Regions from separate parts of the Homo sapiens genome. Here region 1 is reported to be linked to region 2. The links are microRNA targets in miRTarBase. Many come from high-throughput screens and were not tested one by one. Region 2 holds a microRNA gene; the other region holds the end of a gene's coding sequence.
The links. Region 2 holds the annotated microRNA hsa-miR-3202 (UGGAAGGGAGAAGAGCUUUAAU, at 7,833-7,854, shown strand). A microRNA usually pairs through its seed, bases 2 to 8, with sites in the 3' UTR of a target mRNA and lowers its output. Matches are read on the target gene's strand: a 7mer-m8 pairs with bases 2 to 8, a 7mer-A1 pairs with bases 2 to 7 and ends in A, and an 8mer does both.

Region 1 (7,486 bases), not on the chromosome of region 2:
ACTGGCACCGACAGACAGGTTCGTTGTTCTTCCTTCGGAGGTGGCACCTTTGTTCTTAGCTGAGGATAGACTGGTCTGAAAGCAGACGGGGCTGCGGCCCAGGAGGCTGCTGCCGTCAGAGCTGCTGAGAAGGTTCTGCCTCCCTCAGAGCATCTGCCTCCAGGGCTGGCATGGCTGAGGGCACGTGTGCCTGTGCAAGCCTCGAGCTTTTCCCGGTAGCCCCCACGTTGGCCCCCACAGTGTCCCCTCCCTCCCCAGATCCTGTTTCTGGACCTTGGCACTGGAGCCGTCCTGTGTAGCCTAGCCCTCCCGAGCCTCCCTGGGGGTCCACTGTCCGCCAGCCTGCCGACCGCAGACCACCGCTCAGCCTTCTTCTTCTGGGGCCTCCACGAGCTGGGGAGCACCAGCGAGACGGTACGGGAGCCACCCTCGGAGCAGCCATGCTGGGAGCCGGGGCCAGAGACCCAGGCTGGAGCTCCACCGTGGAGTGCCCAGAAGCTCATCGGTGCCTGGGCAACCTCACATAAGTTGAAGTCCAGTGACAGTCAGGATGAGGTGGTGCAAGCTGAGGCAAAGTGACCTTAGAGGGGTCCAGCGAGAAGGGGCTGATGGCCTTCGGTGGATAGGGGCGCACACAGCCATGCCCTGAAGGGAGTGGCTGCCGGCAAGGACCAGTGTCAGGACCAGGTGGGGTGGGAGGACCTGGGAGGTGGCCACAGAACTGGGGGCTGGCATTTGGGGGACCCAGATAGGGCCCCTAGCAGACATAGAGCTCCAGGCACGGTCACTCTGACAGCAGTGTCCTGTGGGAGTGCTCAGTGAAGGGCGTGGGGCCCATTGCTGGTTCTCGCTCCAGGAGACCGGGGAGGCCCGGCACAGCCTGTACATGTTCCACCCCACCCTGCCGCGCGTGCTGCTGGAGCTGGCCAATGTCTCTACCCACATTGTCGCCTTTGACGGTGAGTGTGGCCTCGGCCAGGGACCCGGGTGTTCCGCGGGGTCTGCCCTGGCTGGTCCTGAGCCGCCCTGACAGCTGTGTCCCCCACCCTGCAGCCGTCCTGTTTGAGCCAAGCCGCCACGCCGCCTACATCCTTCTGACAGGCCCGGCAGACTCAGAGGCACCCGGCCTGGTCTCTGTGATCAAGCACAAGGTGCGGGACCTTGTCCCAAGCAGCAGGGTGGTCCGCCTGGGTGAGGGTGGGCCAGACAGTGACCAAGCCATCAGGGACCGGTTCTCCCGGCTGCGGTACCAGAGTGAGGCGTAGAGGCACGCCAGCCAGAGCCTGTGGAGAGACTCCGCCTGCTGACACTAAACGTCCTGGGAAGTGGGCCCTTCCCTGGGTCTCTGCACTGACTCCCCCACTCCTGACCCTGGTGATGGTCGCCACTGGGCAGCAGCAGCCTTACCAGTCCTCCATGATCACACCCAGGGACCTGCATGGGTGAGGGGACACCCTGGGCCTCTCTCCCGCCCAGCATCCTCCCTGAGTCCCCACACAGGGCCTCACTCTGCACCCCACCAGGGTCCCGCTCACACCAGGCAGCCTTCATAGTGGTCTCCCTGGCCACCTTGGGCAGAGCTGGGTCATGCAGCACCCCATCCTTACCCGGTGCCCTCTCCTTGCCAGCTTCTCCCCAGGCCAGAGCGGCCATCGCGTAGAAAGAACCAGGGTGTCCCCGGGACAGGCCGTCCCCCACCCCATCCTGTAGAAGTCCATTCCCCTTTTCCCTCCTGTGCTCTGTCCCCCAAGGAGTCATGGAACTCAGGGTACTGGGCCTCAACGGGAACCTGAGACAGCTCCAGCTTCGCAGCCCTTCCCGGAGCTACAGGGGGATCCTCTAGCATGGGGGGTGTGACTTGGTTCCTTTGACCAGGTCCTGTGAGGAAGCCTGGAGCAAGGGTCTCCCCCAGCAGGATGGGTGGGGCCTGCTCTGGAGCTGAGCCCGTGGCCGCTCACAGGTGTCCTTAGTGGTGTTGCAGCTGTCTACTGGCTGCATGTGCTGTGAATATCCCAAGGAACTGGCTGTGGAATGCGTGTTTGGGTCAGTCTGTGCCCTCTCAGTAGACACTGGAGCTGCTCTGTCCCTGAAGAGGCCCCGTGCCCCAGGCATGGCAAGCGCCTGCCTCTCCCCTTCCGGTGCTCACACGCCCACGCCGTGCCACCCGATGCAGGACTCACCTCTGTGCCTTGCTGCTCCTGAGGCCCAAGGGCAGCCATGGTGCTCTGTACTGCTCGGGCCGCCCAGGTCACAGAGCCTGAGCTTCGTAGCCAAAGCAGCCTGATGACCCACCCACCAAGGAAGAAAGCAGAATAAACATTTTTGCACTGCCTGAAAAACCCCGGTGGTCAGGCGTGAGCCTAGCGTGTGTGCGTCTGCCTGTCTGTCTGCTCCCTAAGTAGTCAAATGGATTTGTTCCTGGAGGAGTGACCAGGAATTTGCTGGCCAGCCTGGGTCAGGGTGGGGAGGGCTGCCGAGGAGGCGAGCACCCCCACCCAGACCTGCTCAGTCAGAAACTGGGCACCCAGCAATCTTGACATCCTCTGGGGGTCTCCGGTTTGAGGACCCCTGCCCACCAAGCTGGGCACCCTGGCCCCATGCAAGCGGGTGTGCTCCCACCTGGAACAGACGGTGGCCTCGGCACCGCGTGACGTCTGAGGGCTGGCTGGAGTCCAGCGTGAAGGGATGATGGTAGGGCCGGGGTGAGCTCTGGTGACCCTGCAGGCAAGAGGAGCCCAGGCAGGGGCTTCCCGGAGATGCAGCTTTGGGTGTGGCGGCAGTGAGGGGCAGGCAGGTGCTTTAGAGAGCCCTGCAGGACTGTCCCACGGCCATGTATGCAAGTGTGAAAAGCCCCGCTTCAGAGCCACACAGGTGTAACCTTGTTCCCATTGCTCCTTCCAAGGCGTGGTAGGGGGACGTGGGGGATGAGGTTGAACAGGTGGGTGCCCTCGTGCCAGGAAGCGGTTCTCTTGTCCCTGAGAAAAGTAACTCAGCCCAGAAGGCCTTGGGTATGAAAGGGCCATATAGGGCTCTGCGGACGCGTCCTATAAGTGAGAACCGCCAGGCGGGCAGGGTGGGGCTGGAGGGAGAAGGGAAGGTTCACTGGGGTTGCAAGAGCTGCCCCCTGACAGCACGGGAGGGAGGGCAGGGGGTCCCCAAAGGGAGGGGTCACCCTGCAGGTCAGAGGAGCAGCTGTGCCCCTGGCCATGGAGGGGTGGGCAGGGCCATGAGCCCCACCCTGAGAAGCCGGAGTTGAGGGGCTGGGCCAAGGGGTGCCATTGCTGGTGGGCAGAAGTTTCCCTCCCTGCAGGAACAGCCTGCACCCCCAGACTGTGAAGAAGGGATTCTTGCCCTGTGGTCACTGCGGGCCCTAGAGAGTCTGGGCCATGCCATGCCATGCCCTCTGCAGCTCTGTGGCCTTAGGGCAGGCTGGGGACAACTGCCCCTCCCCAGAGGCTTCCTTAACAGTTTCCTCACTGTTCCCCCTCTGGAGGGCAGGCGTCCCCACACACTACCCTGCTCACCCTAGCCCACCAGAGCACAGTGCCCTGGCTGTCTCCTCCCAAAGACCAGATGCCCCAAGTCTGCTGCCTGGGTCTGAGAGGGTCAAGTCCCTCCTCCACCATCGACTCCACACACCTGGGACCTGCCCCCTCCCTCACCACACACTGCACACATCACATGCACAATACATTCACACATATGTACTATACATGTGCACACCTCATACATGCAATGTGCACCACACATGCATCCTACACGACACGTGCACACACACCACACATGCATGCCTCACAGTACACCTGCACACGTGCACTACACACAATCACACGTGCTATGCGTACACACCACACGTGTGCCTCAGTGCTACACATGCCTCATACGACACGTGCACACACATATGCATGCCTCACAGTACACCTGCACACGTGCACTACACACAATCACACGTGCTATGCGTACACACCACACGTGTGCCTCAGTGCTACACATGCCTCATACACACAACACGTGCACACACCACACATGCCTCACAGTACACCACACGTGCACTACACACAATCACACATGCTATGCGTACACACCACACGTGTGCCTCAGTGCTACACATGCATCCTACACGACACATGCACATACCACACATGCATGCCTCACAGTACACCTGCACACGTGCACTACACACAATCACACATGCTATGCGTACACACCACACGTGTGCCTCAGTGCTACACATGCCTCATACACACGCACACACACCACATATGCATGCCTCACAGTACACCTGCACACGGGTGCTACACACAATCACACATGCTATGCGTACACACACTTGTGCCTCAGTGCTACACATGCCTCATACACACGACACGTGCACACACACACCACATATGCATGCCTCAGTACACCTGCACACGTGCACTACACACAATCACACACGCTATACATACACACCACACGTGTGCCTCAGTGCTACACATGCCTCATACGCACACACACCCATGCATGTGTCACATGCACCGTCACACCATAAGCTGCACCCACAGCAGGATGGGCTCAGAGCCAGGGCCCAAGGGTCTTTTATTTGTGTGCTGGACGCTGTTGGGAGTGACTGGATGTGAGCCAGCCCTATGGGTGGGGATGGCACCGCCCTACCGCCGAGAGAGTTGAAGCTGCACCCCCGAAAGGAGCCAGCTGTACCTTCACCCAGTCTGGGGGACTGGTGAGGCACTTGGGGGATGGGGAGCAAGGCCAGCTCACGAAGGAAGACTTGGGCAGGGAGGATCAGGGACGCCTGGCAAGGATCCACCCTATGGAATCGGGCCTCGTCAGTGGGGTGACAATGTCAGAGTTGTCTATAAATCGGGGGGGAGGCCGCGGCCTCGAGGTGGGAAAGCAGGTGCCGGCGCACCTGTGGACAAATTCTGGAACGCGTTTGGCGAGGGAGGAATAGGCGCAGCTCCGGAAGGCAGTGACCTCGAGGCAGCCTCAGCACGGCACTCTCTTGGGTCCTCTTCCAGGCTCACACTGGGCGACAGCGGAGAGGCTCTTGGACGGGGCAGAGCTCGCGCCGAGACCTGCATGTCCGCGTCTTGTGACGGGTGTGTGGGAAGCCGCCCGCCTGTGCATCTTGCTTCCGGGTATTCGCTGGCTGATTTACTGGTTTTAGAGATGGGGATGGGCACCCAGTGCTGGACTGAAGACCAGAGAAGGTGGAGCTCCCTGTGGCCTTGGTCTCACCTCTCTTCAGGTAACAGGCTCTGCCCTGACCCAAGCTGAGCCAATGAACCCCCTCCCTGGGAATCCACACCTGGACCCATTCCTTCTGGGCAGGGAGGGCTTGCTGGAGGGAGGGAGGCTGTGCACCCCACAGAAGACTGGGCCCCCTGGGCACAAGGGGACACTGGTGCTGGGTTCAGCAGCCCCCAGGACCTGGGCCAAGACGGGGGTGGCTGCTGCATTCACGCAGGACGTTGAGCTGCAGGGACTAGAGTGGCAGATGGGCCAGGTCCACTAGGCCACCCCATCTCCACCCCCAGGGCCACAAGCCGCTGTGGGCTCCACAGGGGTGGGAAGGAGTGCAGGGCTGGGGCTCGAGTGCCGTGGCCTCCACGTAAACGGGAACACGCTGTGGGCGAGAAGGCGGCTGAGAACAGGCTGGCCAGCTGGTGTCCTGCCCACCTCACTGCAGGGCCCCAGCAGCCCCCAGGCCACAGCCGCCGGCCACAGGGCACTGCCTGGGCTCACCGTCTCTTCATCTCCAGCGGGATCCCAGCCTCTGCCAGGAGGGCCTTGTACATGTCAGACTTCAGGAACCTTGGGTAGGAGTCCTACAAGAGACAGCGTCCAGCCCCTGACCCTTCTGCCTCCTCACCTCTCAGCCAGCTCCACCCGAAGGAGCAGCCAAACATTGCTGGAGCCTCCTCCAGCCACAGAGTCTCCGGCGGACAGGGTGCTGGAGGCAGCCGCCTCGGACCTGCCCAGACCAAGGCAGACGCAGGGAGACCTGGGCTCCCGTCTGCCTGGGCCATGTCGCAGCAAAAAATGGCAAGAGCCCTGGTGGCCACGTGTAGAGGAATAAACCGCGGCACCTCCTCAGCCATTAGCGGGAACCAGGAATGGCTCCGTGTGCCCCACAGAGTGAGGGCAGGGTTGTGGAGTCAAATAAAAAAACAAGGTAGGCCACGCATGGTGGCTCACGCCTGTGATCCCGGCCGGGCAGAGTGGCTCACGCCTGTAATCCCAGCACTTTGGGAGGCTGATGCGGGTGGATCATGAGGTTGGGAGATCGAGACCGTCCTGGGTAACACGGTGAAACCCCGTCTCTACTAAAAATACAAAAAATTAGCCGGGCGTGGTGGCGGGCGCCTGTAGTCCCAGCTACTCAGGAGGCTGAGGCAGGAGGATGGCGTGAACCCGGGAGGTGGAGCTTGCACTGAGCCGAGATCCCGCCACTGCACTCCAGCCTGGGCGACAGAGCGAGACTCGCCTCAAAACAAAAGAAAACAAAACTTTTTAGATCGAAGCTTGACCCTTATTAAGCATGTGATCTGGGCCAGTCCTTCAGCCTGTCTGAACCCGGAGTGGGCTCAGGACGGAACACTGACAGGAGAGCGGCCAGGGCGGCCCCAACCAGGTGGGGAAGGTGCTCCCCAGGGGCAGAGTCAACGTGGGCAGTGCCTGTGCGGACAGAGCCCTTGAGGGTGGGGACATGGAGGCCCGTCTGGGATGACCCCTCCTGCCCCTGCAGGCTGGCCCAGCACCCACCTTCTTCATGAGCATGTATATGTGCAGCTGGGCGTCATCCAGGACATAGCGGTGGGGCTGGCGCAGCCCCTCCAGGGTCTGCTCCATGGTCCGGCTGTCGATGTTGACCCAGTGGGCAGCTCCGGGGGCCAGGAACTGCCTAGGGGTGGGGACAGCACTGGGTAGTCTCGGCTGGGTGCACCTGCCCGTTGGCCAACCGGTGCCCACCACGCAGCACTTACTCGTACACGGCATCCACCAGGGTGGGGACCTGGGCCTGCGCTCCATATCGAAGCTCCTCACATGCCTCCCAGAAGCTGAGGTTTTCTCCTGGGGGGCCGGGCACCCAGTCAAGGATCCCATCGAGAGTGGCAGCCAGGGCCGGTGGGGGGTTCCCAGGGAGCTGGTGGAAACCGAGGCGGGAGGGGTCCCAGGCAGCAGCCTCCCCGCTGGGACTGGAGCAGGGGCTGGGGGGTTCTCACCACTGAACTCCTTTCCCAGAAAGTCCATGAAGTGGGCCCGCCCCACGGGGTCCTCCAGGAGCTCCCGGAAGCTGAAGCCCCATCTCTCCACACGGAGCTTCGTGGGGGCAGCCACCCTGGGGAGAGGGCAGGGCTGTTGGGGAGGGTGGGGACTGACCCTCCTGCGTCCCCCCAGGCTGGGAGCACACCCGCAGTCCCGCTGCCCCGCCTGGGCTCACGTGGGGGCATTCATGACCCAGTAGGCGTCATTGTCTGAGATC
Region 2 (16,560 bases):
TATTTTGTAATCGTCTGTGTTTTAGTTCATGCAGTTGGAAGTATCCATTTGAGAAGGGACAAAGAGAAGAATTCTTGCCTGTCTGTGCCACCACCTGCTCTTTGTGACCTTGGCTAGTTACCTCACATATGTCCCCAAGTCCCCCACCCATGGTAAATAAGAAAACTAAGGCCTGATGCGTTGGCTCATGCCTGTAATCCCAACACTTTGGAAGGCTGAGGTGGGAGGATTGCTTGAGCCTAGCCGGGGCAACATAGCGAGACCCGGAGGCATGGTGGCACACGCCTGTGGTCCCAGGTACTTGGAACGCTGAGGTGGGAGGATGGCTTGAGCCAGGGAGTTCAGGGCTGCAGTGAGCTGAGATCGCGCCACTGCTCCAGCCTGGGCGACAGAGCAAGACCCTGTCTCAAAAACACACACACACACACACACACACACAAAAGCAGCTGCTGGTTTCCAAGGGCCTTGCCTGGAATCAGTCCAGAAGCTAAATTAATGTTAATTGATATTCCTTTATCCACAGAAAGACAGCAAGAAAGGTCATGCGGAGCGGGGGACATAACTAACCATAAATGCTAAAGGCCTGGAGGTGACAGTGCCTGCTGTTTAAACGCGTGCGGGAGAGTCTGGGGCCTTTAGCCAGGAGATTGTCAGGCTTCCCAGGGCTTCCCTGAAAGACCCCAGACCCAGGGGCCAGTGCTGTTGAGGTGTTGGCTTTCCCATGCCAGGCGCTGGGGGAAGCTGTGACGAGATTTGAGTGTCACATAATAAGGATCATGGCAATTCAAAGGTACAGGGAAGCTAGGCTATAAGGTAACCAGCTCGGTTTTCCTGGGGGTCTTGGACAGGTGCTTTGATTACATGGTCACTGTCAGCCCGTACCCCCGGTCAGATAGACTGAACCCCTGCAGCCGGAAAGAGGAGTTGCTTTCCATGCCCTTCCTGGAGTTCTTCCTCGATCAAGTTGACAGTGTTTGACTCTTGTTCCAGCTCTCCGCCCTGCTTGCTGGCAGGCAGGAGGGTCAGACTAGCATGGGTGCCATGGGGCCCTAGGTGGGTGCAGGGAAGGACCTGTAGACGCCATGCGGGGCCTCAGCTGGTGTCTCAGCTGGAGTCAGGAGCTGAACGGGGAAGTGCCTGAGAGGAAATGACAGCTGAGTCAAGGGCAATGGCCAGGCGAAGTGGGCAAAGGGCTTCCAGGACAGAGCTGGGCCTGAGGAGCTCACAGGGCTGGATGGGGATGGCACTTTAAGTCTGGCCAAGACTTTGGGACATGATCCAGGACATGGAATGGGAAGCTGGTCATGGAAGGGTGGAAAGCCAGGGCAGACATGATCCCATCCAGGGCTGCTCAAAGATGCTGGGGCTGCGGTGTGCACACCCCTGGACCCAGAGGCTTTTTTGACTGGGAGGACGGGGCAGGAGGAGTTCGGGTGCCCCATGCTGAGATGGCAGGCTTGTGTGAAGCAAGGACGTATGGAGTGATAGTGAGGACTGTGGTTCCTGTGTGGCAACACCATGCTTCAGAGGGCAATGGGGCACCCACATGCCAAGCCTGGTGGCCCTCCTCAGCAACGGAACTCCAAGGCAAGAAGGCTGAGAATGAGGCCCAGGAGGATGCGGTGGGCCCCAGGACCTGCTTGAGAAGTGAAATAGCAAACAGGACTGGTAAAAGGGAGCAGAGGTGCTGGCTTTGTTCTTTAATATAATTGAATTGAAATTGAGCAGGGCTTCACTGGGCATCTGAGGAAGAGCAAGGAATCAGACCCTGTCCCACCCATTTGGGGCCTAAATTGCAGTAGGGCAGATGGACATTGCACCTCAAAAATAAACAGTGCTTGTCACATGAATCATTTGCAAATATTTTCTCCTATATTGTCTCTTCATTGTTGATTGCTTCTGTGCTGTGCAAAAGCTTTTTACTTTAATATACTCCCATTTGTCTGTTTTTGTTTTTGTTGCCTGTGATTTTGGGGTCTTAGCCATAAAATCTTTCCTGGAGCATTTCCCCATTTTCTTCTAGTAGTTTTATTTTATTTATTTTATTATTTGTATTTATTTATTTATTTATTTTTTGAGACACAGTCTCACTCTGAAACCCAGGCTGGAGTGCAGTGGCACAATCTTGGCTCACTGCAACCTTAGCCTCCTGGGATCAAGCGATTCTCCTGCCACACCCTCACAAGTAGCTGGGATTACAGGCGCATGCCACCACCCTGGCTAATTTTTATACTTTTAGTAGAGATGGGGTTTCACCATGTTGGACAGGCTGGGCTGGAACTCCTGACCTCAGGTGATCTGCCCGCCTCAGCCTCCCAGTGTGCTGGGATTACAGGTGTGAGCCACCACACCCAGCCTTTTTTTTTTTTTTTTTTTTTTTTTTTTTTTAAAGACAGAGTCTTGCTCTGTCGCCCCAGGCTGGAGTGCAGTGGTGTGATCTTGGCTCACTGCAACCTCCTCCTCTTGGGTTCAAGCATTTCTCCTGCCCCAGCCCCCTGAGTAACTGGGATTACAGATGTGCGCCACCACGCCCGGCTACTTTTTGTATTTTTAGTAGAGACGGGGTTGCACTGTGTTGGCCAGGCTGGTCTAGAACTCCTGACCTTAAGTGATCTGCCCGCCTCAACCTCCCAGTGTGCTGGGATTACAGGTGTGAGCCACCGCGCTGGCCTCTTCTAGTAGCTTTATAGTTTCAGGTCTTACTTTTAAGTCTTTAATCCATGTTGAGTTGATTACTGTGTGTGGTGAGAGATAGGGGCCTAGTTTTCATTCTTCTTCACATACTTATCCAATTTTCCCAGTGCCATTTATTGAAGAGACCATCCTTTCCCCAATGTAGGTTCTTCGTGCCTTTGTACTACTTATAATAGCTAAGATATGGAAGCAATCTAAGTGTCCACCAGTGGATTGATATGTAAAGAAAATGTGGTATAGATACATGATGGAATATTATTGAGCCATTTAAAAATAAACTGTTGGCGGGCGCGGTGTTTCAAGCCTGTAATCCCAGTACTTTGGGAGGCCAAGACGGCCAGATCACCTGAGATCAGGAGTTCGAGACCAGCCTGGCCAACATGGCGAAACCCCATCTCTACCAAAAATACAAGAATTAGCCAGGTGTGGTGGCAGGCGCCTATAATCCCAGCTACTTGGGAGGCTGAGGCAGGAGAATTGCTTGAACCTGGGAGACGCAGGCTGTGGTGAGCCGAGATTGTGCCACTGCACTCCAGCCTGGGTGACAGAGCGAGACCCTGTCTCAAAAAAAACCAAAACCAACTATAAAAAATAAAAAAAATAAAAAACTATTGGCTGGGTGCAGTAACTCACGCCTGTAATCCCAGCACTTTGGGAGGCCAAGGTGAGAGGGTCGCTTGAGCCTAGGAGTTTGAGACCAGTCTGGGCAACATAGCAAGACCCTGTCTTTCAAAAAAAATTTAAAAATTTGCCAGGCATGGTAACATGCCTGTGGTCCCATTTACCTGGGAGGCTGAAGTGAGAGGACCACTTGAGCCTGGGAGGTGGAGGCTGCAGTGAGCTGCAATCACACCACTGCACTCAGCCTGGGAGACAGAACGAGACCCTGTCTCAAAGAAATAAACAAACTAATAAGATAAATCTTGTTATTTGTGGCAACATGGATGAGCCTAGAGGACGTTATGTTAAGTGAAATAAGCCAGGAACAGAAAGATAAATATTGTATGTGTTAATTCTTATGTAAAATATTTAAAAAATCAAGCTCATGGAAATAGAAGCATAGTGGGTATTAGAAGCTGGAAAGATTAGAGAGTAGGGAAAGATTCGGAGGAGTCGGATAACAAATACAAAATGCCAGCTTCATAGCATGAATGGATCCTGCTGTTCTGCACTGTAGGGTGAGCACTGTTAACTACAATTTCTTGTGTATTTTCAAAAGACTATAAGAAAGGATTTGGAATGTTCCCAACACAAAGAAATGATAAATGTTCCAGGTGATGGATATGCTAATTACCTTGTTTGATCATTATACATTATATACATGTATCAAAATGTCACTCTATATGCTATTAAAAATAATAAAATAGGCTGGGCACAGTGGTTCACGCCTGTAATCCCGGCACTTTGGGAGGCTGAGGGGGACAGATCAGTTGAGGTCAGGAGTTCAATACCACCCCAGCCGATATGGCAAAATCCCATCTCTACTAAAATACAAAAATTAGCCGGGCGTGATGGCCCGCCTGTACTTCCAGCTACTCGGGAGGCTGAGGCAGGAGAATCGCTTGAACCCGGGAGGCGGAGGTTGCAGTGAGCCGAGATCCTGCCACTGTACCCCAGCCTGCCCCACAGAGCGAGACTCTGTCCCAAAAAATAAATAAAATAGGCCAGGTGTGGTGGCTCACGCCTGTCATCCCAGCACTTTGGGAGGCCGAGGCGGGCGGATCACTTGAGGTCAGGAGTTGGAGACCAGCCTGGCCAACATGGTGAAACCCTGTCTCTACTAAAAAAAATACAAAAAATTAGCTGTGCATGGTGGCGGGCGCCTGTAATCCCAGCTACTCAGGAGGCTGAGGCAGGAGAATCTCTTGAAAACGGGAGGCAGAGGTTGCAGTGAGGCAAGATCACACCACTCCAGCCTGGACAACAGTGCAGACAGTGCAAGATTCCGTCTCAATAAAAAAATAAAATAGGCCAGGCACGGTGGCTCATGCCTGTAATCCCAGCACTTTGGGAGGCCGAAGCAGGTAGATCACGAGGTCAGGAGTTGAAGACCAGCCTGACCAAGATGGTGAAACCCCGTCTCTACTAAAAATACAAAAATTAGCCGGGCTAATTTTAGTTGTAATCCCAGCTACTCAGGAGGCTGAGGCAGGAGAATCACTCAAACCCCGGAGGGAGAGGTTGTACTGAGCCGAGACCACGCCACTGCACTCCAGCCTGGGCGACAGAGCAAGAGTCTGTCTCAAAAAAACAAAATAAAATGAAGTAATAATAAAATAGTGCTAAGTGGTCTGCATATACAGATACTTTTTTTTTTTTTGAGACGGAGTCTCATTCTGTCGCCCAGGCTGGAGTGCAGTGGCACGATCTTGGCTCACTGCAACCTCCGCCTCCCAGGTTTGAGCGATTCTCCTGCCTCAGCCTCCCAAGTAGCTGGAACTACAGGCATGAGCCATCACGCCTGGCTAATTTTTGTATTTTAGTAGAGATGGGGTTTCACCATATTGGCCAGGGTGGTCTTGAACTCTTGACCTCAACTGATCCACCCACCTCAGCCACCCAGAGTGCTGGGATTACAGACGTGAGCCACCACGCCTGGCCACTTTTTTTTTTTTTTTTTTTTTTTTTGGGGGGGAGAGGGAGTTTCGCTCTTGTTGCCCAGGCTGGAGTGCAGTGGCGTGATCTCGGCTCACTGCAACCTCCGCCTCCCGGGCTCAAGCGATTCTCCTGCCTCAGCCTCCCGAGTAGCTGGGATTATAGGCATGTGCCACCACACCTGGCTAATTTTTTGTTTTGTTTTGTTTTGTTTTGTTTTGTTTTGTTTTGTTTTGTTTTTCTGAGATGAAGTCTCACTCTGCCGCCCAGGCTGGAGTGCAATGGCACGATCTTGGCTCACTGCAACCTCTGCCTCCTGGGTTCAAGCAATTCTCCCGTCTCAGCCTCCCAAGTAGCTGGGATTACAGGCGTGCGCCACCACGCCTGGTTAATTTTTTTGTATTTTTGTAGAGACAGGGTTTCACCATGTTGGCCAGACTGGTCTGGAACTCCTGACCTCAAGTGATCCACCCGCCTCTGCCTCCCAAAGTGTTGGGATTATAGGCGTGAGCCACCGTGCCCGGCCTAATTTTTTTGTATTTTTGGTAGAGACGGGGTTTCACCACATTGGCTAGGCTGGTCTCAAACTCCTGACCTCAGATGATCCACCTGCCTCGGCCTCCCAAAGTGCTAGGATTATAGGTGTGAGCCACTGCGCCTAGCTTTTTTTTTTTTAGAGATAGGGTCTTGCTCTGTGGCCCATAGCTCACTGCAGCCTCCATCTCCTGGGCTCAAGTGATCTTCCTGCCTCAGCCTCCTGAGGAGCTGGGACTATAGGTGCACCACCATGCCTGGCTAATTTTTATTTTATTTTTTAAATTTAATTTTATGTATTTTGTGTAGAGACAGGGTCTCACTTTGTTGCCCAGGCTGGTCTCAAACTCCTGGACTCAAGCAGTCCTCTCACCTTGGCCTTCCAAATTGCTGGGATTACAGATGTGAGCCACCATGCCCAGCTACATATGCTTTTTGATGTATAACAGGGTAATGTCCAGATAAACCCATCATAAGTCGAAAATATAGGAACTGGACTTTCAACTTAAGAGGGGTTTAGCTGGGTGCAGTGGCTCACTCCTGTAATCTCAGGACTTTGGGAGGCCAAGGCAGGAGGATCACTTGAGGCCAAGAGTTCGAGACCAGGCTGGGCAACATGGTGAGACCCTGTCTCTACAATTTTTTTTTTTTTTTTTTTTTAGATGGAGTCGCGCTCTGTCGCCCAGGTTGGAGTGCAGTGGCGCGATCTCAGCTCACTGCAAGCTCCGCCTCCAGGGTTCACGCCATTCTCCTGCCTCAGCCTCCCGAGTAGCTGGGACAACAGGCGCCCACCACCACGCCTGGCTATTTTTTGTATTGTTTTAGTAGAGACGGGGTTTCACCGTGTTAGCCAGGATGCTCTCGATCTCCTGACCTCGTGATCCACCCGCCTTGGCCTCCCAAAGTGCTGGGATTACAGGCATGAGCCACCATGCCTGGCCCAAAATTTTTTTAACAAAAATTAGCAGGGCAGGCCGGGCGCTGTGGTAGGGAGGCTGAGGTAGGAGAATGGCGTGAACCCGGGAGATGGAGCTTGCAGTGAGCCAAGATCGCACCACTGCACTCCAGCCTGGGCAACAGAGCAAGACTCCGTCTCAAAAAAAAAAAAAAAAATTAGCAGGGCAAGGTGGTGGTATATCCCTGGTCCCAACTACTTGGGAGGCTGAGGCAGGAGGATAGCTTGGGCCCAGGAGGTGGAGGCTGCAGTGAGCTGTGATTGTGCCACTGCACCCCAGCCTGGGCAACAGAGCAAGACCCCCGTGTCTAAATAAAAATACCCAGGCCATGGCAGCAGAAAGCAAGGAAGAAGCCACGTGGAAGCCCTCCTGGCGCTTCTTCCAGGGAGGTGAGCAGAGAGCACCTGGGGCCAGGAGGCGGCATGCCTGGGTTTCTGCTCCTCCTCACTGTAACTTTCAGCCAAGTCAAACTGCTAGAGTTTCAGTTTCTTTATCTGTGAAATGCCGGGGCTGGCACAGATGGTTTCTAAGATCCCTCCCAGGCCTGGAACTTCTAAGCGATTAGGTCAAAGGTGAGCTAACCGGGCTGGGCACAGTGGCTCATACCTGTGAATCCCAGCACTTTGGGAGGCTGAGGCGGGTGGATCACTTGAGGTCAGGAGTTCAAGACCAGCCTGGCCAACGTGGTGAAACCCCAACTCTACTAAAAATAGAAAAGTTAGCCGGGCATGGTGGTACACGCCTCTAATCACCGCTACTAGGGAGGCTGAGGCAGGAGAATCACCTGAACCTGGGAGGCGGAGGTTGCAGTGAGCCAAGATTGTGCCACTGCACTCTAGCCTGGGCAACAGAGTGAGACTCCGTCTCAAAAAAAAAAAAAAAGGTGCACAAACCGAGGCCCAAGACAGTTAAGGTGCAAGATCACATGGTTAGTAAGTGGGAGAGCCAAGGTTTGAACAGTCTGGCATCAGCTGACCAGGAACTGGAGCCCACCCTTCTCTCTCCCTGAGCCCGCCTACCCGCCCACCCTCTTGAGTGCGAAATTTATTAATATGGAAGGGAGAAGAGCTTTAATGATTGGAGTCATTTTCAGAGCATTAAAGCTCTTCTCCCTTCCATATTAATGTATTTCTCAGCTACTAGGGCTCACTTACAGCACCAGTGGCCCCAAAGCAGTTGACAGTCAGTGGTAATTAAATTGTCTCTCTGGTTCTGTGACTGAAGGAGACAGAAGGCTTTATGGTGGCCTGAGGAAAGAAGGTGATTTGGGGCTTGGCACTTCAGGAGAGGGCAGGCGAGTGAGCCAGGGAAGCTGGCCTGGGAAGCCTGCGGGTCACCCCCTTGCCTCCCGGCCTGGTGCTTGAGTGGCAGACGGTGAATCCTCCTCCTCCTCCATCCCCCACCTTGTGTCAGAGGCCAGAGCTCGGACTCCATCTAATGGTCTCTAGTTCAGCTGGGTATTTGGTGAAAAGGGCTTTGGGGCTGGAGACGTCCACTTTTATAACACACTGACATGGGAAGGCGCATTCTGAGTTGTAATGACAGAGCTAGACAGGTCTTGTCTGTAGATGCAGTGGCTTTAAGGAAACTAGGACGATGGGCAGGATTTTCCTAGGTGCCAGGAGAAAGGGGTGATAGAGGATTCTAGAGGCTTGAGAGAGTCAGTGTGCAGCGGTTTCACTCTGATTTGCTTCTCCAGTGAAGATGGTTGGTAGCTCCTGAGGCCGGGGGTCAGGAACATGGAGGCGGTGCTGGGGACGGTTTGTTTTCTAACCACACTCCTTTTGTAACCACAAAGGAAAAAGGCAGAACGTTCCTCCGCTGGCGCCAGCCAATCAGCAGGACTCCTGCCTTCCTTCGGGGCAAGGTCGCAGCATCTGCCTCGGAAATCACGAAATCACGGGGCTTCTTTCTGCTGGCTCAGCCGGGAGGCCCAGAGTGTTCTGCAGAGGCTGCGTATTGAAGGCTGCTCTCTGAAGCTCCCTGCCCCAGGTCACGCCGCCGGTTCCAGATGAATCCAGAGTGGGGGCAGGCCTTCGTGCACGTGGCCGTGGCCGGTGGCCTCTGTGCCGTGGCTGTGTTCACGGGCATTTTCGACAGTGTTTCCGTGCAAGTGGGCTATGAGCACTACGCCGAGGCGCCCGTGGCCGGCCTCCCTGCCTTCCTGGCCATGCCGTTCAACTCACTCGTGAACATGGCCTACACGCTGCTGGGGCTGTCGTGGCTGCACAGGGGCGGCGCGATGGGGCTGGGTCCCCGCTACCTGAAGGACGTGTTCGCAGCCATGGCCCTGCTCTATGGCCCCGTGCAGTGGCTGCGCCTGTGGACGCAGTGGCGCCGTGCCGCGGTGCTGGACCAGTGGCTCACACTGCCCATCTTTGCATGGCCCGTGGCCTGGTGCCTCTACCTAGACCGCGGCTGGCGGCCCTGGCTGTTCCTCTCTCTTGAGTGCGTCTCCCTGGCCAGTTATGGCCTCGCTCTGCTGCATCCCCAGGGCTTCGAGGTCGCACTGGGTGCTCACGTGGTGGCCGCTGTGGGGCAGGCGCTGCGCACCCACAGGCACTATGGCAGCACCACCTCGGCTACCTACTTAGCTTTGGGGGTGCTCTCTTGCCTGGGCTTTGTGGTCCTCAAGCTGTGTGACCATCAGCTCGCACGGTGGCGTCTCTTCCAGTGCCTCACAGGCCACTTCTGGTCCAAGGTCTGTGACGTGCTCCAGTTCCACTTTGCGTTTTTGTTTCTGACGCATTTCAACACTCACCCAAGATTCCATCCCTCTGGCGGGAAGACGCGTTGAACCCAGGGAAGAACCTGCTGAAAACCGATGACCCCCAGCATTGAAATGGACTCTGAGATGGCAGCGTGGTGCCAGTGTCAGACATCCTGTGTGTGATGATATGCACTGATCACACAAGACTGCCCTTTCCTGAGAAGCTGCGGGCTTCGGTGTGGAGGGGTGGAGTGCTGTGATCTCGACAACTTACTTTCAAAGACATAAAGCACAGATCTCCGCACAGGGGATGTGTGTGTTCCTGATGTAATTTGCATAACTTTTCTGTAGTTTGAAATGTTTCCAAATAAATATTGGCAAGGGGAGTGGAAATGACACCAAGAAGCCCCTCATGCTCATGGTTGGACAGAGAGCGATCGTCTGGAGTATCTTTGGGGTGTCAGCTCTGGGTGTGGACTGGCAGCAGTGAGGCAGGCCAGTCAGTGGGGTACCAGTGAGTGTCCTTAGAGGCGGCTGGATTCAGGGAGACTGAGTCACACTAAATACGTGCCCAGCAGACTGATGGGGAAATCACTCAATTATCCCCATGACATCTGTGACTGTTAACTGTAGGCAGGTCACGTGAGAGCCACATCACCTCAGATCGTCTGTGGAACCAGGCAGTGTGCATCCAGATGAGGAAACACACAAATGTCAAAAGTTGAACTCTCAACAGAAAGTTGCTTTGTGGGTCTCCCCTCAGAGCCAGGGTGTGGCTTAGATGCCCTTAGTGGCTACAGTCTGAGCAGTCCCCACCTGCCCGTCACCCAGGTCCTTGCGAACCAGTCTGCTGACAGTATCGTCAGGCACTGTGCTGGAGGCGGCACGTGCTTCTCATGCAGGCAACAGTTTTTGAGCCCTCGAGCCCAAGGCCCAGACTCTCTAGTTTGTGGTCAGGATGCTGGGTCATTCTTAGCCGCAGCCAGAGAGGCACTGAGGACTCCGTGCCACCCTCTCTACTCCCGGGACAGTCCTTCCTGCCGGTCACTATGTTACTTAGAGGCCTGCCTCACCTCCTTTCATCTGAAGGCATCTGGTCTGTAAAGGGGACTTCCTTTTTTCGAGACAGAGTCTTGCTCTGTTGCCCAGGCTGGAGTGCAATGGTGTGATCTTGGCTCACTGCAACCTCTGCCTCCCGGGTTCAAGCGATTCTCCTGCCTCAGCTGCCTGAGTAGCTGGGATTACAGGCACCCACCACCACGCCCGGCTAATTTTTGTATTTTTAGTAGAGACGGGGTTTCATCATGTTGGCCAGGCTAGTCTCTAACTCCTGACCTCAGGTGATCCGCCCGCTTCGGCCTCCCAGTGCTGGGATTACAGGCATGAGCTCCCGCGCCCGGCCTGTAAAGGGGACTCCTGAAGACAGGTAATGTCATTTAACTCAGGGGCTCTTCATCCCAGACTCCATAGTCTTGTCCCTGGAGCCTTAAGTACTAAGGAGGGTCTGCTTTAAGCCCACAAATTAAATGGAGAAGTGACCAGCTCCAAAGGTGAGGGCAGAGGAGAGAGGATGCCCTGTCCCTGCCAAATGGCATCTCAGCATGGGCCACCCATGTGCACCTGCTCAGTGCCCTCGAGGTTGGCATTCGGCCCACGACTGTGATGACTGAGATGTTTCTGGAACTGGGCACCTGGGCTGGATGTTCTGTCCTGGCTGGCTGAGCACATTGCCACCAGGTAAGGACCTGGGGCAAATGGCAGGACCCGACCCAGGGCTTGGGGCCTGGGGGTGGGGCACGTGGTTGGCAGGGGAGAGCAAGGACAGCACCTGCTTGGGAAACAGCCTGGTTCCATTTGAGGTCGTCTCGAAAGCACCATGTGCCCTAGAAGAGGGAAGAGGCTGCACACATCACCAGAGAGGCCACCCTTACTTCACAGAGGCTGGAGGGAGGGCGAAAAGAAGGCGGGCTTCCATGCGGGCTCAGAGACAGGGTGGGGGCAGGCTCTTCATCCAGCAGTGGGGGATCCCCTTTTGTGATTTCTCTGTGAGTAGCTGTTTCCCTCATTGACAGAGGACTGCTGGGACTTCATGCCACACCTCGCAGCAACAAGCACTCATCACGATTTTACTTTTTCTTCCTACCAATACCTGTGTAATAAACAGCCCTGCGAGCCTCCTGGGTCAGGCGGGGTCCCACGGGAAACAGGTGGTGTGCCTAGATTGGGGTGATTCAGGGCGGTTTTGTGGGACACCTGGAAGAGTGGACCCCACCCAAAGGAGAGGCTTATGTGGAGGGGACACCTCCAGAGGGGCAGGGACTGCAGGAAGCCTGGCTCCGCTCCCTCCCTCTCCTGCCAGAGTTGCCAGATTATACGCCAGGCGATGAACAATGGTTTTGCACAAGCGTGTCTCAAATGTTGCATGAGACATTTCTCCTACTAAAAAAGTATTGTTTACCTGAAATTCAGATTTCACTGGGTGTTCTGATTGTTATTTGCTAAATCCAACAACCACGTCCTGAGCCAACACAAGCAGAGCCAGAAGCCCCGGAACCTGCGCAAGGCAGAGCAGGTGGCAAAGAAGGCTCCAGGCAGGCCCCGGCCTGGAACCTGCACTCCCCAGGCCCTTTTTGAAATTAGTGTTTCTCCAAGTATGGCCAGTTGCCATTAGTCACACAGCTTCCTGCATCCCTTCCTGCCCAGGCGAACCCCCCTTCTGGGGCCGGGACCTCAGAGTGCCTCAGCCCTGGCCCGGGGTTTGCGGATTCCACCAACCCCTGAGCCACTGGAGGAAGGAGGCTGGCGGCTGTGCCTCCCTCCAGCTCTGCAGTCCACGGAGGAGCTCGGCCTCGCCCAGGGGGATTGGCTGTCAGGGCCGCCGTTGCCGTTACTGGTCTTGGTCTCAGTCTCGCTGCTCCACTGCGTCCCCAGCACAGCTGGGGAGCCAATGGTTGCCAGATGGGGCCTCTCCCCGACCTTTGACCTAACGGTTTAGAGGTTCCAGGCCTGGGAGGGATCTTAGAAACCATCTGTGCCAGCCCCGGCATTTCACAGATAAAGAAACTGAAACTCTAGCAGTTTGACTTGGCTGAAAGTTACAGTGAGGAGGAGCAGAAACCCAGGCATGCCGCCTCCTGGCCCCAGGTGCTCTCTGCTCACCTCCCTGGAAGAAGCGCCAGGAGGGCTTCCACGTGGCTTCTTCCTTGCTTTCTGCTGCCATGGCCTGGGTATTTTCTCCCCACATAAAATAGTTTTAGGGCCTGGCGCTCTGGCTCACGCCTGTAATCCCAGCACTTTGGGAGGCCAAGGCGGGTGGATTATCTGAGGTCAGGAGTCCGAGAGCAGCCTGGCCAATATAGTGAAACCCTGTCTCTACTAAAAATACAAAAAATTAACCAGGCATGGTGGTGGGTGCCTATAATCCCAGCTACTCGGGAGGCTGAGGCAGGAGAATCGCTTGAACCTGGGAGGCAGAGGTTGCAGTGAGCCGAGATCACGCCACTGCACTCCAGCCTGGGCAACAAGAGCGAAACTCTGTCTCAAAAACAAACAAACACACACACACACAAAAATAGTTTTAAGCCCGGTGCAGTGGCTCACGCCTGTAATCCCAGCACTTTGGGAGGCTGAGGCGGGTGGATCACCTGAAGTCATGAGTTCAAGACCAGCCTGGCGAACATGACAAAACCCCATCTCTACTAAAAATACAAAAATTAGCTGGGCATGGTGGTGGGAGCCTGTAATCCCAGCTACTTGGGAGGCTGAGGCAGGAGAATCGCTTAAATCCGGGAGGTGGAGGTTGCAGTGAGCTGAGATCGTGCCATTGCACCCCAGCCTGGGCAACAGAGTGAGACTCCATCTCAAAAACAACAACAAAAATAGTTTTAGGCCAGGCGCAGTGGCTGATGCCTGCAATCCCAGCACTTTGGGAGGCTGAGAAGGAAGAATTGCTTGACCTCAGGAGTTTAAGACCACCCTGGACAACGTAGGGAGACCCCATCTCTACCAAAAATAAAAAAAATTAGCTGGGCTTGATGGTGTGTATTTGTAGTCTCAGCTACTCAGGAGGCTGAGGTGGGGAGGATCACTTGAACCCAGGAGATCCAGGCTGCAGTGACACAGTTGTAATAAGATGGCATCACTGCACTCCAGCCTGGGTGACAGAGCAAGACCCCATCTCAAAAAAACAAAAAAATTACAGCATAGGGCACACACTATCATGCATTCGCTTTTCTGGGCCCCATTTTGGCTTGGTGACGTGCCAAGGTCTGCTAGAAACTGCACACACTGGCCCGGAGCAGGCCCTTCTCCAGTTAGGTCTCAGGAGTGGGATTGTAGGGCTGAAGGGAACTTCAGTTTCAAATCCCTGGAGTGCTTTTCCCAGTGACGTTCTTGATTCACATCTCTAGCAGCAATGTGAGAGGCTTCTCCGCCCCCCACCAGCAAATGTCAGGGTGGGTGCATTTTCATGGTGTGCCAATCTGATGAGGGTGACATGAGATTTCATTGTGACTAACTCAGACCCCTTCCCCTCTCTCACCGACCCCCCGCCAAAAGTAGTGTGTGTGCATTTTTGAGACAGGGTCTCCCTGTGTCCCCCAGGCTGGAGTGCAGTGGCGCAATCATGGTTCACTGCAGCCTTCAACTCCCAGGCTCAAGAGATCGTCCCACCTCAGCCTCCCAAGTAACTGGGACTATGGGCGCAGGCCACCATCCCTGGCTAATTCTTTTGTTTTGTTTTTGTTTTTGTTTTTTTGAGATGGAGTTTTGCTCTTGTTGCCCAGGCTGGAGCGCAATGGCGCAATCTTGGCTCACTGCAACCTCTGCCTCCTGGGTTCAAGCGATTCTCCTGTGTCAGCCTCCCGAGTAGCTGGGATAACAGGCATGCGCCACCATGTCTGACTAATTTCTGTATTTGTAGCAGATACGGGGTTTCTCCATGTTGGTCAGGCTGGTCTTAAACTCCCGACCTCAGGTGATCTCACCTCGGCCTCCTAAAGTGCTGGGATTACAGGTGTGAGCCACTGCACCCAGCCTCCCTGGCTAATTCTTAAAAAAAAAAAAAAAAAAAAGAAAATTTTTTTTTAAAATTACTATGAAATGTATTATTTGTTATTAAGTTACAAATTTTTTTTTTTTTTTTTTGAGACGGAGTCTCGCTCTGTCGCCCAGGCTGGAGTGCAATGGCGCGATCTTGGCTCACTGCAACTTCCGCCTCCCAGGTTCAAGCAATTCTCCTGCCTCAGCTTCCCAAGTAGCTGGGATTACAGCTAAAATTAGCCCGGCTAATTTTTTTGTATTTTTAGTAGAGATGGGGTTTCACCATGCTGGCCAGGCTGGTCTCGAACTGACCTCATGATCCACCCGCCTCGGCCTCCCAAAGTGCTGGGATTATAGGCATGAGCCACCGCGCCTGGCCAGAGCCCAGCCTAATTCTTACATTTTTTTTCTAGAGATGGGGTCTCTCTGTGTTGCCCAGGACCACACTCCTGCCTTGCCCTCAAAGTGCTGGGATGACAGGCATAAGCCACTGTACCCAACCTCCTCATTTTGTCCTCGGACTCCTGGGCTAAAGCAATCCTCCCACCTTGGCATCCCAAAGTGTTGGGATTACAGGTGTGAACCACTACACCCAGCCTATTGTTTGTCTTCTGAAGATTTATGTGGTCATGCATGTCTGTCTTTTTCTTCGTAGCTTTCGGGGTTGGTCTTCCTTAAAGCAGTTTTCTGAGTGTCTAGGTAACACTTGTCTGTACCTCAGCTAACTTTGTTAAATCTCAGCATCGCCTGTAGCTGCTTCAGATGTTTTTATTATAACATTTTCATTATAAAATTATTAGATAGTTAAAAATTATGTTTATAAAGAAAACAATGCGGCTGTCACATTGCTGACATGACGGTTTACGTAACTATAGTGAAGTAGTGCACTTGGTGAGGGAGGGAAATGCCAGCACGCTTGGGCAAGGTGCCTCATTGCAGCCTGGGAGAACGAAGGTGGGTGAGGCATTTCCCTCCCACGCCGAAGGCCTCCGGGAATAGAAATACCGGGTAAATATCCACTGGCCAGTTCGTATCCTCCAGTGGGTCATCATGTGATTGGGGAGCGCTTCTTCCCATTCAAAGGGGATCTTTGGGGACCCGGGTTTATGGAACCCTCTCTGCGTTGGTCCTGGGGGCTGCTTCTCTGTTCAGTGACCCTGTGACTGGAGGGCACTGCCTTGGCCCGGCGCGTGGCCATCTTGTTCCTAGGGTCACTGGAGCCTGATTGCTGTGGTGGCACGCCAGGTCCTTCAAAGCTTTCATGTTTTTATTTTATTATTATTTCTTTTCTTTCTTTCTTTCTTTCTTTCTTTCTTTTTTTTTTTTTTTGAGACTGAGTCTCACTCTGTCGCCCAGGCTGGAGTGCAATGGCGCAGTCTCAGCTCACTGCAACCTCCGCCTCCCATGTTCAAGCGATTCTCCTGCCTCAGCCTCCTGAGTAGCTGGGATGACAGGCATGAGCCACCACGCCTGCCCTATTTTATTATTATTTTAAATTTTATTTTAGTTTCGGGGGTACATGTGCAGGTTGGTTCCATAGACAAATTGCATGTTGTGTGGGTTTTGTGTACAGATTATTTCATCACCCAGGTATTAAATAGTAAGCCTCATACCCAATAGGTGATTTGTTTCTGTTTTTCTAGCCTTTCCTTCCATTGCCGGCCTTTCACTTTGATCTTTGCTGTCTGTTTCTCTTTGGAACCGCTGACTTCTGGTTTTGCTCTTGCCTCTTCTCGGCCCCACTTGACCTCCACTGGGGCCTGGGCTAGCTTGTGTGTGCCGCCACCATCTCGGCCAGCTCAGGTCTGTTTCTTTGGAAGATTCTGTGCCCCTCCCATGCCTCTCCTGCATGTGGCCCATGCACAGTAGTGTGTGGCTGCCCTCGCCCTTGTGTGTGGGTTTTTTGTTGTGTTGTTGTTGTTTTGTTTTGTTTTGTTTTGTTTTTGAGATGGAGTCTTGCTCTGTCACCCAGGCTGGAGTGCAGCGGCACAATCTCGGCTCACCGCAACCTCCTCCTCCCAGGTTCAAGTG

Region 1: the mRNA of FAM234A is a reported target of hsa-miR-3202. Seed matches in the 3' UTR shown: 7mer-m8 at 1,331-1,337, 7mer-m8 at 1,813-1,819 and 7mer-m8 at 2,131-2,137.

What each region holds. Positions count from the first base shown.
Region 1 is chr16:263,758-271,243 of GRCh38, forward strand. FAM234A (family with sequence similarity 234 member A) reads left to right here. Exons shown (of 13, transcript NM_032039.4): 10 at 1-18; 11 at 259-414; 12 at 857-959; 13 at 1,054-2,339. The coding sequence ends at 1,265. RGS11 (regulator of G protein signaling 11) reads right to left here. Exons shown (of 17, transcript NM_183337.3): 12 at 7,445-7,486; 13 at 7,227-7,342; 14 at 6,987-7,074; 15 at 6,766-6,904; 16 at 5,746-5,828; 17 at 4,550-5,626. The coding sequence ends at 5,512. Among named protein-coding and RNA genes, the nearest start is that of RGS11, 8.4 kb to the right of the region's middle.
Region 2 is chrX:153,973,273-153,989,832 of GRCh38, forward strand. It overlaps MIR3202-1 (microRNA 3202-1), which reads left to right and starts at 7,825; the gene lies at 7,825-7,905. It overlaps TMEM187 (transmembrane protein 187), which reads left to right. Exons shown (of 2, transcript NM_003492.3): 2 at 8,578-9,922. The coding sequence starts at 8,791. The coding sequence ends at 9,576. It overlaps MIR3202-2 (microRNA 3202-2), which reads right to left and starts at 7,904; the gene lies at 7,826-7,904. RefSeq lists enhancers at 7,202-7,311, 11,119-11,168, 12,011-12,370, 12,541-12,670 and a cis regulatory region at 12,020-12,745.